Linked DNA regions of Homo sapiens. The protein of the gene in region 2 interacts with the protein of the main gene of each other region in a biochemical or structural test. Each region holds a gene or a part of one and is shown on either strand. Other genes may lie near its edges.

Region 1 (9,258 bases), on a different chromosome or scaffold from region 2:
TGCTGCGCGGCTTCCGCCCGCCAGAGGGCGCCGGAGGCCGCTCCCGGGACCCACGCGCAACAGCGCGGGTACCCGCCCAGTTCAGGGCCCGCCGTCTTCTCGCAGACTTGCCCGAAAACCTCCCGGCGGCGTCTCGACGCCCCAAGTGCCCACAGACACGCCGCGCCCTGCACCCCTCCCCAGCCCTGCTTGGGGCTGACCTCCCCCGTGCGTGCGTGCGTGCGTGCGCGCGTTTGTGTGTGCGCGTCCGTGCGGGTGTGTGTGTGTAATGTGTGTGTGTGTAATGCCTGCGTGTGTGCGCGTGTATACATGCGTGTATGCGTGTGTGTGTACGTGTGTGCATGCATTGGGTATGTGCGTGTGCGCGGGTGTGTGCATGTGTGTTTGGTGGACTCTTTCCCAAGACATTCGGGGGACCGGAGGAGGGCAGAGCCCACCTTTTCTGAAGTCCAGCCTGCCTGTCCCCTAGGAGGCTTAGGGTGGACAGAAGGGAAGGGAAGGGAAAGGAAGGGTGCAGGCTGCCGGAGTACTGGAGGTCCCTGCAAAACTTGGAAGCCCCCGCCAGCCTGCTGAATAAACGCCGGCCACCCATGCGCTGCCCTGCAGCCCTCAGGTGGCCCTGCCCTCAGAGACAGGGGTGGGGGTGGGATGGGACCCATCTCCCACGTGCTTCTGTGGACATTCCCTTGCCCTCTGAGCATCCTCACCAGCTCTGACCCACAGGATTGGAGGGACTGGGAGCTCCTGCCAGCCGGGCCTCCCTCCCATGTGGCTACTCCAGGGACTGCGGGGGTCTCCCGAGCTCCGCTCTGTGGGCCACCCACCTCCATGACCCCAGTAGAATCCCAACAGGCAAGCCCAGCGGAGCAGGACATGGGGCCTGGAAAGGTTCCAGGGTAGGACTGGTCAGGCCAAGCCCCTGCACATTAGAACATTAGAAGCTGGAGGCCCCAACCCCACCCCACCCCACCCGCCACCAGCCCTCCCTTAGGCTCTCCTGGCTGAGAGACCTCCTCCACTTCCTGTCCAGGCCCTGGTCCTGTTGTGGGGCCTGGACCACTGGCACCTGGGGAGGAGGGGCAGGCCCACAGCTGGGAACAGGAGAGCCTTTCATCCCAGGGAAAGGGGGCAGCTCCAGGCCCCCCAGCTCTACCAGTGCATCCCTCAGTCCTTGCTGCCAGAAAGCCTCCTCACTGGCCCCAGCCTTCCATGGCCCTGACCTGCAGGAAGCCTCTAGGCTGAGTCCCACCCAGTTTCCAACTGAGGGTCCACACCTCGAAGCCCAGCACCCACCCAGACAGGCTGGCATCTCAGGCCCAGGGCATCTCCAGGAAGACAGACAGCCCTGGGCCTAGGCCTCAGGCTAGGAGGTGTCTAACAGAGTGTGTGGCTCTCAGACTGCCTGCCTCAGTTTCCCCATTGGTAAGGCACAGCCTCTGGGGAGGCCCAGGTCAGGAGGGCAAGAATCTCACTCTCAGCGTTCAACCCACCTGCCCTGCCACCCACTGGGGCCCAGTCAGGGCCTGTGGATTCCCTGGGGGAGCCTCAAGGAAGGGGCCGTACCTGCCACCCCCTTTCTCTGGTCCCCAAGTGACAAAAGATACTCCCAGGGCTTCCTGAGCCATATGACACAGCTGCGCCCATCTCCTCCCAATGCCTGAGCCTCTCTGGCACTTCCATTCTTAGAATCACCCGAGTCAGCTCTGGGAGCAGCAGCCAGGGCCAAGAGATCACCGGTGCTGCCTGTGAGGAGGTGGGGGCACAGAGCGTAGTGACGGAACTCCCCCAATGCCTCTACAGCCCCCTTTCAAAGAGCAAAAAGAATGCTTGGACAGGCTGAGGCTCAGCAACGGTGGTAGCAGGGAAGCTGCCATGTGCTTCCAGCTCCCCCAGACCCACTGGTCACCCAGACACCTGGCCTGGCTCCTGCTCCGGGGCTCCCTTCCTTGGCCACACAGTGCCTTCTTCCTCTGGGCTTGGAGGCCTGGGAGGCCTGGGATGGGGTGAGGTGGACTCCCGGTTGACCTCAAACGATGGGCACCTCAGCAGGAGGGGGTCCCCACCCTGCAGTAATGGGCAAGAGAACCTGGCTGCACCCAACAGCAGTGGCTGGAGCCCAGGGTCTCAGAGTGCCCTTGGGTCAAGCTGGGGACACCTGCAGGCACAGGAGAAGCCTCAGGGGCCTGGCCTCCTGGCTTTCCCAGCCTCAGTTCCTTCCATTTCCCTCAAACAGTAGCCTGACGCATGTGTCCCTGCATCTCAGGCTTTGTCTGACCTGCTGTGATGGGGAGGCAGCTCCCAGCCTGGCTCCCCAAGGGGCCCCTCCCAGAGAGCCTCATCCACCTCTGGGTGGGGTGTGTCCCTTCCAGGAGAATGGCACTGGTCAGCCAGTGACTCCCCCAGCTCCTGGCCCCCCTGCCCGCCCTCCTGCCCTGCCTGCTGCACCCTGGGCCAGGACTCTGGAGTTCCACTCAGCATCCATGGCTCCTGAGAAACTCCATCCCTGATGGGGGCTGCCAGTGCCACCCTGGTGCCAGAATTGGGCTCTTCTTTTTTCCTCCAAAGATGGCTGAGCTCAAGCCAGAGAGGACACCAGCAGGCTTTCCCCAGCCCCCCCAGCCCACCTGGTTGTCAGCCCCCGCCCCACCCCAGGGGCCTCACAGCATTGTTTAACCCTGAGCTCGGCTGGGTTTCACCCAGGTGCCTAGACCAGCCTCCTGTCCAGTCTTGCTTTCCTGGAGGGTGGGGCCAACCCTTTTGAGAAGCCACAAGCCTATTTGTACCCACAGGGTCCCAGGACCCATCTGGGCACCCAGAATGACTCAGACCAGACCCTGGGGGTTCCCAATCTGGGGAAGAGTCCCTGTTGCAGACCTGAACACTCAAATTTGTGTATGGGGAGGGAAAGGGGCATGAAGGTGCAGGGGAGGTGGGTGGTGACCACAGGCCCTCTGCTGTAGGGCTGTTCAGGGACTGTGCTGGCTGATGGAGCCTGACTCCCCTCCCCCAGCGTGGCCTGCCACGACCATGGCCTCACCCAGGACCCCCAGCTCATGGCCTACAGGCCAGGTCAGCAGGAGATGCTGGCACTGGCCCTGTGGGAGGGGGACACTCTGCCCATCCCCCCATCCTGGGGAGGGGCGCAGGGTCCCTGCTGTGCGGGTCCGGGGACCAGGGCCCCCACTCCTCTCCTCTGAAGCCCCAGGCGCGGCGGCACTGCCCGGCTGACAATCGGTGATCGCGACAGGGCTGGGTGAGGGCCGGCGGGGGCGGGGTCGCGCCTGGGCGCCCAAGGCGCTAGTGTCACAATGGGTGACAGCCGGCCGGGTCTCCCGGCGGGGGAGCGGCGCTGCGCACGTACCTGCTTGTCCTCTGCGGGGTCGGGGTCGGGGTCGAGTCCGGGTCCGGTTCCGAGCGGGTCCGGGCCGGCGGGCGGGGGAGAGACGGAGAGACACGGTGAGAGGCGCGCGGGCGGCGGGGACAAAGGCGCGCGCGGGCACGCGGGCAGGCGCTGGGCTCACCTGGGGTCGCCAGCTTGCTCTTGTACCGCAGGCCTGTGCTCATGGTGGCCGCCGGCGGGGGACGTGCGGGGCGGGCTCGCGGGCGGGGCGCGACGACAAGCGGCGGAGGCCGAGGCCGGGCTGCGGGGTGAGCGGCCCCTCCGCGCCGCCGCCGCCGCCGCCCGCTCCGCCCGCGCGCCCGGCAGCCAATCGGCGCCCGCCGCGCCCACGCGCGACCCAGGGCGGCCCGGGGGGGCGGGGACCCAGGTCCCCCACCATGGACCCGAGACCACGGCCTCGGGGCGACGCCCTCGCCTCCTACAGCCCTGGCCGCGCCCGGGGTCACCCGACCAGACCCGCGCCGCCCCCGCCCTGCACGGCTGTTCCTGCCGGCCTCCTCCCCGCCACCTCCCCGGTGCCGCAGCCCAGGCCCAGCCTTACGCTCCCCCCGCCCTCGCTGGGACCCGGGTCCATGCCGGTCCTCGGACCATCCGTCCGGTGGCCCTTCTCTAAAGCCTGCCCTGGCTTTCCGGGCCAGACCCTGCACGCTCCGCCCCACCCCGCCGAGGTCAGCAGGGATGGTCCTGGCGCGGCTGGCCAGTGCCCAGCATTGCCCCTGCTGACCGCTCGGTGCTGCGCAGACCTGCTCTGCGAGCAGACGCACCTGGCAGGCTGTAGGCCACAGGCTTTTGGGCAGTGGTCCGGCCTCTCTCTTCCTGGGCTGTAAAATGGGATTATTTGTGAAGAGGAGTGATCTGAGGTGTCTGGCAGGACCGGCCCTGACCGTCTCACCCCAGCTCTGCGCCTGCTTCTCTGCTGACCCATAGGCTGTGGGGATGCTCCAGGCAGACCCGATCCCACCCTGCGGAGAAGGCTTGTAGGGGACCGAGGGGCACTGTGAAGGCAGGGCCAGGGCCTGCACCCCATTTACAGAGGGGGAAGTTCAGGCCCTAATCTTCAGTGAGTCAGCCAGACTCAGTGACTGAGAGCAAGTCTCTCCGGTCATTTGTGTCACTATCACATTCCCAGGTGTCCTCCGCCTGGACTTTCCCAAAGTGTCCCCAGGCGGCATCTCTGAAGGCTTTGGGGCTGTCAGGCTTGCGGTCACCACCTCCCCAGGTGAGGGCCCCCTTGTATGGAGATGTCTCCTGCACCCCGTATAGACAGTACCTCCACAGCCAGGGAATCCGCCTCTGCTCCCCACCCGTCCTGTGCCCCTTGGTCCCTCTGCTGGCCCGTGGGCTCCCTGGGTGGAGGGGGGTGTCGCTAGGGCCTTTCCATCTCTGAATCACCAGCACCCAGCACGGTAAGTGAAAAATTCATGTAAGCCGCGTCTTTGTTCCACAGTCCTTGCTCTGCTGCATTCTGTGGCCAGAGCGCCGTTGACCATAACCCTGCTCTGGGTCTAGAACTCTAACCAGTGTAGGGATCCCCCACAGTCCCAACCTCTCATCCAAGATGTGTTTGGAACTCAGGCTTTTTTGTATACATCATACATTATGTGGCACCTCTTTGGAACCTGGGGCTGCTCCTCATAATCAGACCCATTTATATTTTCGGGGCAAAACATATGTATTCAGGTGAACTGGAAGAAATAAAGACAGTAAGTGATGGCGCATCGTTCAGGTCCAGCTTTGCCACTGAGTTTTGAAAAACCTTTATGTTTCTGAGCTTTGGAGAATTTGGAATTTCGATAAAGAAATGTGTGTTGAGGTCAGGAGATCAAGACCATCCTGGCTAACACGGTGAAACCCCGTCTATTAAAAATACAAAAAATTAGCTAGGCATGGTGGCACATGCCTGTAGTCCCAGCTATTCAGGAGACTGAGGCAGGAGAATCACTTGAACTCAGAAGGCGGAGGTTGCAGTGAGCCGAGATCGCACCACTGCACTCCACTCCAGCCTGAGCCAAAGAGCCAGACTCCGTCTCAAAAAAAAAAAAAAAAAAAAAAAAAAAAGAATGTGTGTGTGGGGGTAGGGGCACTCAAAGGGCCAGGCAGGACTTCTGAGCATAGACAGGACTTTTTGGAAAGAATTGGAAAATGATGGTTGGCTGTTCACCACGTGCTGACCCATGCAAGCCTGTGCTTGTGGAGACAAAGGAGGAGAGACAGGAGCCCTGCCCAGGGGGAGGCAGGCAGCCTGTGAAAGGCACCAGCTCAGCGCCCCTCCCCATGGCTCAGGTGGCAGGGCAGCTCTGGACAGCCTTGGGTTAGGGGGTTTGAACTTGGCCTTGAGACAAGTGCATAGCAGGTCAAGGGCATAGCTCAAAGGGTGGGAGGCACATGTATACAGGAGTAATAGGTTTTAAAACAAATCTGGAGATAGAAGACAAGAAAGATGAGGAATACGGCATAAACATGATCTTTTTTAAAAAAGTCTGTCCCAAAAGATTACTTACAGAAATGCAGTTAGATTGGAGACCAGTGTTTAAGGGACAGCCAGCCTGGAGGCTGATGGAATATATAGGACTGGGAGCCACTCCTTGGAAGAGTGAAGTCAAGGGTGGTCCTGGGTCAGCGCCTCATGTAAAATGCCTGGGCTGGAAGGGGGAAGCGGCATCTGCTCCCTTACTCTGGGACTTTGGTCACCATGACTGTGAGTGCAGGGACAGCCCGAGTCCCTCCACAGACACATCGAGGCTGCACCCTGTCTAGCTGGGAGGCCTGCTGGATGGCATAGTGTCTGCATGGGACATTTCTGAAGTCAGGAAAATGGGTCATGAGGGCATCGGTCAGCAGACGCGTCTCCAGTTCTGCCAGGTGAGGCTTTGAGATACTGGCCACCACAATGGAGGCTGACAGCCCAGTGAAACCCTTATTATGCTCCTGTTCACCAAAAAGCCAACCAGGCAGGCCTGGTGGCTCACGCCTATCATTGTAGCACTTTCGGTGGCCAAGGTGGGAGGATGACTTGAGGCCAAGAGTTTGAGACCAGTCTGGGCAAGAATGTGAGACCCCGTTTCTATAAAAATTAAAAATTAAAAAAAAAAAACTGGCTGTGGTGGCATGAGTCTGTAGTCTCAGCTACTCAGGAGGCTGAGGCCAGAGGCTCACTTGAGCCTGGGAGTTTGAGGCTGCATGCAGTGAGCCGTGATGGTGCCACTGCACTCCAGCCTGGGCAACAGAGTGAGACCTTGTCTCAAAAAAAATGAAAAAACAAACAAACAACACCCAAGCCTTGGGGCTGTGGCTGATATCAGGGGGGCTGGAGCCACAGGGCAGTGGTCTGAACACACACACTTACCTCTCCAAGATGCCATGGCTTGAAAGAAAACTGCCTGCCAAAGTGGGTGTGTGCATCCACTTTCCCCAGCAGGCAGAGGAAGCGCTGGCTGTGGTACAAAAAGAAGTAAATAAAGCACTCCTTTGTGGAAAAAAAAATGCTATTTTTTAATTCATAAGGAAAAGAAGTTAATGAATAAAAAAATAAGCTACACCAAGAAAAATCTGTTCAACCAACTTGGGCTACAAATAGCTTGACTCTTTTCAGAAAAAGCCTCTTAGTGAAGAAATTCTCCAGAGGCTGCATTTGAACCATGCTGGGCCTCCCTCAGCACACAGGGGAGTGAGCGCCCCAGGGCTGGGACCCGGAGAAGGATGGAGCTGGTGGGGAGGTGGCAACGGTGATGGCGACGAAAGAATAAGGCACCTGCCATTGGCCCTTGGGAGCAGGTCTTGTGGGTGACAGGCTTCAGAGGGGGAGCAGTTTGCTCCAGGTGACACATGTCGCCACACTCCCAAGCCTGTCATCTGCAGTTAGGGCTGAGGCCACCACTGACAGGTTCCAGATGGCTCAGTCCATCTGAGGCTGAGGATGAGGGAAGAGGCCAAGATGCATGCAGGGTGTCAGGCACCTGAGAGCCCCACAGGCCTACCTGCATGATCAACTCGGGCAACCCTGACCTGTGCTGGGAATGGGGTGTTTTTTCACCCTGAGTAGACGCAGGAAGTGGAGGTCAGGGCGCGGTGGAGATCTGCTTGAGACTAAACAGCCGAGACTAGAACCCACGACCGTGGAGCCCAGGCCTGACTCCTGCAAAGTGCTGTGACCTGGTCGCGGCCCAGCCAGGGGCTGTCCCAATCAGGCAGCTGCTCGAGGCCTGAGCTCACATCCCTTCTATCCCCTGAATTCACCAGCAACCTGGTGGGTCCCAGATGATCCTCCTGACCCCTGCATTTTTCTACTGCTCTCATGCTCCTGTCCCTGCTGTTCCTGAAGCCCTCGCCCGCCAACCCTGTGAGATTTGAACCCACCCCCAGTACCTGGGGGCTCCGAGGGAGGCCGTGTGACCTGCAGCTTCATGCCCCTGCACCTTGGCACTAGTGTGCCCCCTGCCTGGGCTGCCCTTCTCTAGCTCTGCCGACCCAGCAGCACTGTCTCCAGCCCCTCCAGGCCCACCGTGCCCTATGCTGGCCTCTCTTCTGCAGGACATGGCCTGCCAGGCAGCAGACTCCCGACTGGCTCCCTGGCCCCCACACTCAGCCCCTGTCTGGCACCTGGGAAGCTCAGCAGCATCAGCTCCTGCTGGGTGGGGGCACAGGCTCCTAGGCGTGGATTCACAGGGCGGGCAAGGAGGGCCTGACTAAAGAGCCAGGCTCTGGGGAGCTTCAGACTGCATATTCTGAATCCCAAAACCTCTACTGTCTGCAGAGGGGTGCTTGTGTGCTCAGCCCAGCTCAGGGGGGTGTGCGGAGACCAGGAGGTTCTGGGGCGTCCTCCCTGCTCCCAAAGGCAGTGGCTGTCACCGAGCACAAGGGGAAGTGTGTGCACAGTGAGGATTCTACTGAAGAATGTTTTCCTTGATCTCCTTTTCAGAAAAATGTAAGGGGGTCACTGCACAAATCAGTCCTCATCACCGATGGGAAGACATGCCCATTAGAAGAGCACAGAACCCACAGCAGCTGTCTCTGCCTGGAGGGTGCGGCCTGGTCCTGCTTAAAGCCGCCTATGTCTTGCAGCGGTGGACAGAATAGGGCTTCAAGGGGGCTGAGTCTCAGTCCACACCAAGTCCCCGATTCCCTGGGCAGCTGGAGTGAGTGCTACAAAGGGCGCCTGTGCTCCACGGCAGGGAGCCAGCCTGGATCCAGAGCTGAGGGTCTGAGGGAGGTGGGTCTGCAGCCACATCTGATGGGCCTTCAGAGTCCCCTGAAGGATCTGGGACGGCGCCTGCAAGATAACACAGAGAGCAGCCCAGGGTAGGGACCAGGCGTGCAGTGTGACTCAGCTGGGAAGAGCTCCCCACGGTAGGGGGCGGAGGGGAACCCTCCACAGGGATGCTGCCTGAGGGGGCTGCACGGGACCATCCCCAGGCTGTCCCGGCAGGCAGAGGTCCTCACTGCAGTTCTGTGATTTTATGAGAAGCTGAAGGTGGAAGAATAGCAGATGAATGAAGAGATGTGAAATGGCACCAATGTTGATATTCTCCTGTGTCATGCATGGAAGCATGACAAACATCCCACGGGAGCAAGCGCTTGCGAAAGGCAGAGAGCAGGGCCAGAGCACGGTGACCTAGATCCTGCGGCTCACCCCACCCCTCCATCACAAAGAGCTCAGCGCTGGGCTCCAGGGACTGGCTCCAGCTCCCCACTGCATCTACCTCCCAGTCAGGCAAGAGAGATCTGAAAATCACTCTGGAATAAACAGGACCCTACTGTCCCGTCTTCAGGACCTCTGTTCCCTGGACCCTGGTGCTGCGTGCAAATGCACTGCCTGTTGCACACCCAGGCTCCCACGGGGAAGGTGGTTGCCAGAGCCC
Region 2 (8,727 bases):
CAGGAGCCTCATTCATTTCTGGTGGGAATGCAAAATAGCCACCTCAGAACAGTCTGGTTGTTTCTAACAAAACGAAACATCATACAATCTAGCAATCACACTCCTTGGTATTTACCCAAAGGAGTTTTCAAATCCTTTATGTTCACACAAAAGCCTGTCCACAAAAGTTTATAGCAGCTTTATTCATACTTGCCAAAACTTGGAAGCAATAAAGATGTCCTTCAGTAGATAAATGTATAAATGAACTGTGATATATCCAGACAATGGCACATTAGCCATGCTAAAAAGAAATGAGCTAGCAGGTCATGAAAAGACATGAAGGGCACTTAAATGCATATGACTACGTGAAAGAAGCCAATCTGAAAAGACTACACATGTATGATTCAACTATATGACATTCTGGAAAGGGCAAAACTATGGCGATAGTAAAAAGAAATGGTAGCCAGGGGTTAGGGAGGAGGGTGGAGGGAGGGGTGAACAGGTGTGAAGAGGTGAAGCACAGAAGATTTTGAGGGCAATAAATCTACTCTGTATAAGACTATAATGGTGGATACATGTTATACATTTGTCCAAGCCCACAGAATGTACCACACCAAGAGTGAACCCTACTGTAAACTATGGATGCTGGGTGATTATGATGTGTCAGCCTAAGTTCATCAATTGTAACAAATGTACTGCTCTGGTGGGTAATCGTGCCAATTGGGGAGGCTGTGTATGTGTGGGGGAAGTGGGTATATGGGATATCTTTGCACTTCCCTCTAAATTTTACCGTGAACTTAAAACTACCTTAAATTATAGTCTTGAATGAACGAATGAATGAATGAACAAATTAAACTAAAATAAATGCAACACTTTAACATTTAGAGAGTGTACTTCCTAAAGCCCAAATGAGCATGGCAGTGGCAACATATTCGCATTACAATTTTTTCTAATAACCAATGAGTGCTTACTTTCATGAATCCTTCACTTTTCAATTTGTGCAGTTTGGAGGCTGCATTATGGAGGCGTTTTCTTTGGGAATTCAGGAGCGAGTCCAGCACTTGCCACCATGTACGACAGTTCAACACAAAGGCCAATCCCACTACAGATGCGATTGATATGAGGACAGCATTTACAGTCAGATGCTTTGGGTCAACTCTAAATATAGCCAGAAGAGTAATTCCAGATATAATGCAGCCAATGATAAAAAGGAAGATGACAAAAGATGGGAGACAACATGTTTTTTTCCATTTCTTTTTACCTGTAATGCAACAAATGGTTTTAATAATTAACATATCAAGGATCTAGAAAATCCTAACATTATAGTCACAATACCTGATGAGTCTAATGTTCAAGGTGTGTTTTCATGAAAATAAACTGAACATCTATCCCACCCCCATCCCTTACACACAAAGAAGGAAGGAAGGAAATCCTACCCTGAGTATCTTCAGTCTTGAATACTCGAAAAAGCCTGGTTGCCAAAAAGCCAAACTCTCTTTCACAAGCATCCGAGAGGGTTGCAATCATTTCAGCCAGAGAAGTTTCTCCACCTACACTGGACAGTCTATTGTAATCTGTAAACAAAAACCTTGAAGAAAAGAACAAATCAAACATTACTTTATTATCTAAAGTAACAAATAACTTCAATGTATGTCATCTTTGCATCACTTACCCTTTATTTTCTTTTTGTCTCTTTCAAAATATTGTTTTTTAAATTCCAAGGAGGGAAAAGAATTTGTAATTAGGTAGCTTCCACTTCTAAAATCTTACATACTTTTCTTAGGAAAAAACAGTAACAAAAGTGAAATGTGCAGGGCCATATAAAGTAATTCTGACTAAGGACAGGCGGGGGAAAGTTACGCCAGAACTTAGATGTGGAGTATCAAGACACCCCAACAGATCTCACGACATAGTGGTTAAAAGGTGACACACGTGTCATGATGTGGCCACCAAGAGTTGCACAAGAAAGTTTTCTAACACCAACGAAAGAGACTCTAACCCTGAAAAAATATTAATTACAGTCATTAAAGAATTTCAAGCCCAGTAATACCATTTAAAAACTCAAGTTTTAGCATGGCTTATTTTATTTATAGCTTCCACGTCTACCAGGGATTGAGAAATAGTTGTAAAATATTCTCTTCACAATTGATCTTCAAAATTAAGTGAATTATTTGTATTCAGAGTCTCTGAATCATTATTATTTCTGTTAGTTCCTTTCTCCCTTCCATCTCTAAATTAAACTCTCATCTCAGTCCAGTAGATAAGCATTGCTCTCAGAATACAATCTGTAATATACTGTGTGGTCTTGACGATGCTACTTTAATTGTTCTAACTGAAAAAAAAAAATACCACCTCATTAATTTAGACTGGTTTCCTTATTTTCTGTAAAAATATTCCCCCAATTATTTTATTCTGTTTTCCTTTTAACTTTTTCACTTTTAAATCCTTTTCTTAATACTTAATTCTCTATGCTAGTTACTTAAAAGTTTTTACCTTTATTTTTCTCTTATACTCAGTTTTAATATTTTACCTGGTTTGGCTTATTTATTTTCATCTTAAATTACACTTATTTTTTCTTATAACTAAAAAATTTTCATCTTTTAATGCTTTTTTTTTTTGAGCAGGGTCTCACTTTGTCACCTAGGCTGCAGTGCGGTGGCGTGATCTTGGCTCACTGTACCCTCAACCCCCGAAGCTTAAGCAGTCCTCCCACTTCAGCCTCCCAAGCAGCTAGAACTACAGGCACGCACCACCACACCCAGCTAATTTTTCTATTTTTTGTAGAGATGGGGTTTTGCCTTTACCCAGGCTTGTTTTGAACTCCTGAGCTCAAGCAATTGACCACTTTGGCCTCCCACAGTGCTGGGATTACAGGTGTGAGCCACCACATCTGGCTTAATACATTTTAAATTCTTACATTGCTTACTTCCATTGAATTTCTTTTGCTTTTAACTTTCTAGCTTTTTTTTTTTTTCATTTCACTGTCCTCTGGAGCCCTCTACCTTTCCTTTATTCCTGGACTTAAACATTTTTCATCTTTTCTTTTTTCTCATAAATTTCCTACTTAATATGAATAATAATTTTAGACAGACATGTGAATATATTTCCTGAGCTGAGAAAAGCACAGCTCAGAGAGGGGAGCTGGGTTTCCCCAGGTTAACCGCTCACATAAGGAAGGGCCAGGTCTCCAGCGGGAAGCTCTCTGGGGACCAAGGCCAGTGGCTGGACCCCTCCTCCATCCAGTGCTCTCTTCAAAGTGTGTTCCAAAAGATGGTAACAGGTGACATAACAGGGAGAAAAGGTTTATGCTTAAATAAAATTTGGTAAATAAAAGTTAAACAGGTTTCTTTATGGAAAGGTGCCTCTGATCCTTTAACGTACAGGAGGGATATATAATCTGAAGTGTTTCCCACGGTATTTGACCAGGGCATGTTTTTATTTCTGTATGTAAAAGGTTCCAATGTTTTTTGGAACATACATTGAGAAATTATATTCTATAAACTTTTTTTTTTTTTTGAGACAGAGTTTCGTTCTTGTCGCCCAGGCTGGAGTGCAATGGCGCGATCCTGGCTCACTGCAACCTCTGCCTCCCAGGTTCAAGCGATTCTCCTGCTTCATCCTTCCAAGTAGCTAGGACTACAGGCATGCGCCATGACGCCCCCGCTAATTTTGTATTTTTAGTAGAGATGGGGTTTCACCATGTTGGCCAGGCTGGTCTCGAACTCCTGACCTCAGGTGATCTGCCCACCTTGGCCTCCCAAAGTGCTGGGATTACAAGCGTGAGCCACCACACCCGGCTCCTATAAACTTTCCGAAGTGAAAAATATTTTTTTCTGAATCTCATTGAAGATTTCTTCTGTCAAATGGTACAACTCACCTCACAGGTAAAGCTTTAGTAGTCTGCTCTGGCAACTCAGGTGGATTCACAAACATCAATTTAAGGAGGAGTTCCAAATATCCAATATGTCTTGCCAATCTAGTGCTGAGGACCCAGGCCCAATTCCAACTCTCTCCTTCTCTTCGTCCACCAAAGTAAATGACAACTGAAATTCACAGTTTAAAAAAGTTATCCAAAGCAGTCACTAGTCAAGCAGATCTTTTCTCCAAAGATCAAGTATCAAGTAATGAGAGCTAAGCTTACATAGCTTCCTATGGTCCCATACTATTTCCTAACTACTCCTCAAAGAATTCCATTAACCTCCCCTAAGATACAGAAGATATGAAAAATGAAAAGTAAACTGACTAAAACATGCCTTAAACAGAAACATAACTGCAGTTCAGATTCAAATGCAAATCATCTTGGGTTTATCACTATTCGCAACTGGTGAAGTTGGTTATCAGTTCCTCTAACAGTAAATCTATTTCCTTTCTTGCAACTGAAGACACCCCCAAGAATAGGGATTATATTATATTTTTTTTATTTTGCTTTTAGATAAAATTAAAAGTACAGACATGGTCAAAATGCTCAAGAGCATACCAATGATGGCTTTGAAGCCTTCTTTTCAGAAAAAGAATTTTTTTTTTTTTTTTTTTTTTGAGATGGAGTCTCGCTCTGTTGCCCAGGCTGGAGAGCAGTGGCGCCATCTCGGCTCACTGCAACCTCCCCCTCCCAGGTTCACGCCATTCTCCTGCCTCAGCCTCCCGAGTAGCTGGGACTACAGGCGCCCGCCATCTTGCCCGGCTAATTTTTTTGTATATTTAGTAGAGACGGGGTTTCACCATGTCAGCCAGGATGGTCTCGATCTCCTGACCTTACGATCTGCCCGCCTTGGGCTCCCAAAGTGCTGGGATTACAGGCGTGAGAGCCACCGCACCCGGCCCAGAAAAAGATTTAAATATAAATCATTAATTAACAAAAAGAGTAAGTATAATAATATAGGTTCTTGCTTCAAGATTAACAAGTAGTACATTAGTTTATAAGCTACTTCAGCCAAGTTGTGAGCAATGTTCCTTTAGGAAAATTTATGGAGTAGCAAAAAGATCAATTTTCTCACCCAATTATGAAAATCACATACAGGTTTTAAAAGACAGATAAAGAAAATGTTTTTTCTTTATCTATGAATCTTAACGTTTTCTCCATTTTTGAAAAAGATAAAAAGCAAAGACTTACTAAAGAATATATATAAGAGAGCCAAGAAGCTCAGTGACACTGCTATTCCAAGATTTGGGTGGACCGTGAAGGCAAACAATAAACCAAGCCCTCCACAAAGTAGCAGGGTAAGAAACACTATGAGCCATGAGAACTGAAAGAGAGGCTCAATCTGTTGTCCGGCGAAGGTTTTCATTTCGTCTGAAAGAGAATTTAATACGAAACCTTATTCCTGTTTTGTTTAAGAAATACAACTTTTAACTCAATATGCAGTTTTCACATTTTCAATGTAAACATTTATTGGACACTTAGTAGGTCCCTAGATGGAATACTGCCACTTAACCATTTTACCCAGTGTTCTCTTGCCAAAGATGAACATCTCACCCCCAGGACCACAGCTAGGCCTGACTCGCCACCCTCTCCTGCTTCACGTGGAGGATGTACAAAACCCCTTCTCATATACTCCCATCTGTCAAGATTTTCTTGAGATTTGTTTTTTGTGGTTTGCATTAACACAAACAACAAATATTATGCATATGCATATTGTTTCCACATGCAAAAATAAAAACTATACCCTATATCTTCAAACTACATATCACCACCATTCCACTGTGATCCTTCTCATCCCTTCTCCCTCCAATCACATTTGAGAATACTGTTCTTAAAGGTGCATGTTGAGCCCAATGGAGTCCCACACAAGTAATTCTTTGTACAAAACTTGGGGAAAATTTTATAGGCAATACTGAAACCTATCCTTGAAGAATAAGTAAGCTTTTGCCAAGCAAAAGGCATGCATGTTGGGTGGGTGGTAGTGAGGCCACTAAGGAGCTGCTAATAGAGGGAGCAACCTGGGAAACACATCTGGTCTGTTCTTGCAAGAGCAAACAGTCCTCTGTGACTGAAGCTGGGGCACATGCCAGAGGTGGTGCTGGCAGGTGGGACCATGCAAATTGACAAGTCTGTGAAGGGCCCGAAAAAAACTTGCCAGCAAGGGTTTTATGTGGGGTTATCACACAATTGGATCTGCTTTAGAAAGAGAACTCAAATGACCGTGTGAAGGACCAACCAGAGGGGAGTTCATCTCAGTAAACCACATAACACACATGCTTATACAGAAAGTGGTCTTCCTCTTTATTTCAGAAAAATCCCCAGAGAAAACCTTGCTTTATATATACAGACTTTGTACAAGCAAGCCCTTTACCTTCTAGTTTCTTGAGTAAGAAAGATTTCCCACTTCCCCACTGTGCATATAACCCCACACAAATGGGTGGCTGCATGGTAGGCTCACTGAGAATATCTGCCAGGGCACTGCTATATAAATCATATCCAAGCATGTCACCGTCTGTTTCAGTAGGAGACAAGTGTCCTGTAATTAAAACACATCATATCTTACATTAAACAGTGGCATTACTATTAGAAATGAACACTATTTTCATTGTTTCCTTGATTAGAGAGAAAAAAATTATTTCAAATGTTTATACCCATGTAGGGACAGTTTCAGGGAGTCTCTGAGCCTATTCTGACTTGGAAGGCTACCTGATTTAAAATTCAGAGATTCTTAAATTACTATCGTATTTCATAAAAAGTTTCAGATATTCTTAAATTACTATCATATTTCATAGAACTTGATACTTATTAATTATATGATACATCATTTTTATGTATAACTAAGAAAGAACAAAATGTTGCCAAATTGTGACATCATGCTTTCTTGTCCATCACTTACAAGACACATTCCAATTTCAGAGATGTTAAATTATGGGAACATTGTGCATTTTAGAATCGATAAAATATGATTAACACAAATAAGCATATAAAATAAATTTAGTACGTGTAATACCTATACAAAGAAAGTTGTAAAATGTTACTGAAGAACATAATAGATAATAATAGAAAAAGAAACATTTTATGATTCCAGGAAGAAAGGTTCAGCAATTCTCCCAAATTATTCTATCACTTTAAGGCAGTTCTAATTAAAATCCATGAGAATTTTGTTTTAATTGAAAGGAAAGAAGAATGTGTAAGAATAGAAAAAAAAATTAAAGACTACTGAAGGGTAGTTGCCACTGGAGAAGAATAAAAATGTAAAACAATAATTTGAACATTCTGGAACTCATATAGGATATTAACATAAGTGGCATTTCAAATAAGGCAGGAAAGGATGAATTAGTAAGTGGTGTTGGGAAAGTTTAATCATTCATGAAAAAATTAAATTAAAATGCTATATACCTCATAGCCTCAACAAAATTTTCTGAAACATTAAAAAATTAAGTAGAAAAAAGTAAAACCATAGAAGTACTAGAAGGAAATATAGGAAAAACTTTAAAAATCTTTGTTTAAAAAGGCCTTTCTTTTGCAATGTAATACTAAGGCCAGAACTGCAGGAAAAGACTAATGAATAAACTACAAAAATGTAAAACTTTTGAATGAGGAATAAAAATCCATGACCATCAACCAAGAGTATGCCGGGGGAGAGGAATGCAGCACATGGGATAGACCCAGGATCAATATCCATAACACAGAAAGACTCTTACATCAATTTTTTTAAAATATTAAAAACTAAAAAGTGGGCAAAGGATACAAAAAGGAAACTGGCAAGAATACAAATAGCCTATGAACATATTACACATTATCTAAGCCAAAAGGCTGAGAAGCAATAGCCTATGAATATATTACAAGATCTCAATTTCACTAATAATTTTAAAACACAAATTGAAATGAGATTTTCTTTTCTTATTTATCTGATTAGCAAAGAGTAAGAGGCTGGAAATACCCAGTGCTAGCAAGCTTGTGGGGAATTGTGGTATCTTACACTGCCAGAGGGAGAAGAAATTTTTACAACCATTTTGGAAAGTCTATCAAAACTATGGGCATCCACTGACTTGGCAATTCTACTTCTGGGAATTTACCCTAAGAAAATAATCCTAATTGTACCCCCTGAATCTCTAATAATATTTTCAAAAGAAAGAAAAAAAATCCTAAAAATAAGAGTCAATGGATATACGTACAAAGGTGTTCACTGCAGCACTAGTTGTTAGCAAAACAAACTAAATATTCACCAATAGCGAACTCAATGTACGAAAAATTATGCAATAATTAAAATATGACACTTTAAGCTTTTGTAACATATTATAACTCAATTTTTATTTTTTAAAACTATATACATAGTATGTAACATTTTTATAAGCATAAAGAAAAGCCTGGAGGGTCATTTAAACAATTACAAGTTGGGATATAGGGGGTAATGGGGAATTTTCACTTTCTGCTATACTCATGTTTTCATTCTTGAAATGTAATTAGTGCACATTACTATTATAATAAGAAAAAATATTTTAAAATACAAAAAGTCATAAAAAAATAGAATCATGGCCAGGCACAGTGGCTCATGTCTGTAATCCCAGCACTTTGGGAGGCCAAGGTGGGAGGATCACTCAGCCCCAGACTAGGGAACATGGCAAGACCTCGTCTCTACAAAAAAAGAAAAAAAATCAGCTGGGTGTGGTAGCATGGGCCTGTAGTTCCAAGTACTCAGGAGGCTGAGGTGGGAGCATCGCTTAAGCCCAGGAATTTGAGGTTGCAGTGAGCTATGATTGCATCACTGTACTCCAGCCTGGGCAACAGAGTGAGACCCAGTGCAGTGGTGTGATCTTGGCTCACTG

Evidence for each region.
Region 1: the proteins of KIDINS220 (region 2) and SEPTIN5 form a complex in vitro, tested with the Homo sapiens proteins (one study listed by BioGRID).

What each region holds. Positions count from the first base shown.
Region 1 is NC_000022.11:19,708,895-19,718,152, reverse strand, and holds the start of SEPTIN5 (septin-5), read right to left. Parts: upstream 3,651-9,258; 5' UTR 3,565-3,650; coding exon 3,522-3,564; intron 3,457-3,521; exon of another isoform or gene 3,373-3,456; coding exon 3,362-3,372; exon of another isoform or gene 3,358-3,361; intron 934-3,357; exon of another isoform or gene 1-933. UniProt on the Homo sapiens protein: Filament-forming cytoskeletal GTPase. May play a role in cytokinesis. May play a role in platelet secretion.
Region 2 is NC_000002.12:8,784,791-8,793,517, forward strand, and holds part of KIDINS220 (kinase D-interacting substrate of 220 kDa), read right to left. Parts: intron 6,435-8,727; coding exon 6,270-6,434; intron 5,270-6,269; coding exon 5,090-5,269; intron 4,023-5,089; coding exon 3,857-4,022; intron 1,568-3,856; coding exon 1,416-1,567; intron 1,241-1,415; coding exon 951-1,240; intron 1-950. UniProt on the Homo sapiens protein: Promotes a prolonged MAP-kinase signaling by neurotrophins through activation of a Rap1-dependent mechanism. Provides a docking site for the CRKL-C3G complex, resulting in Rap1-dependent sustained ERK activation.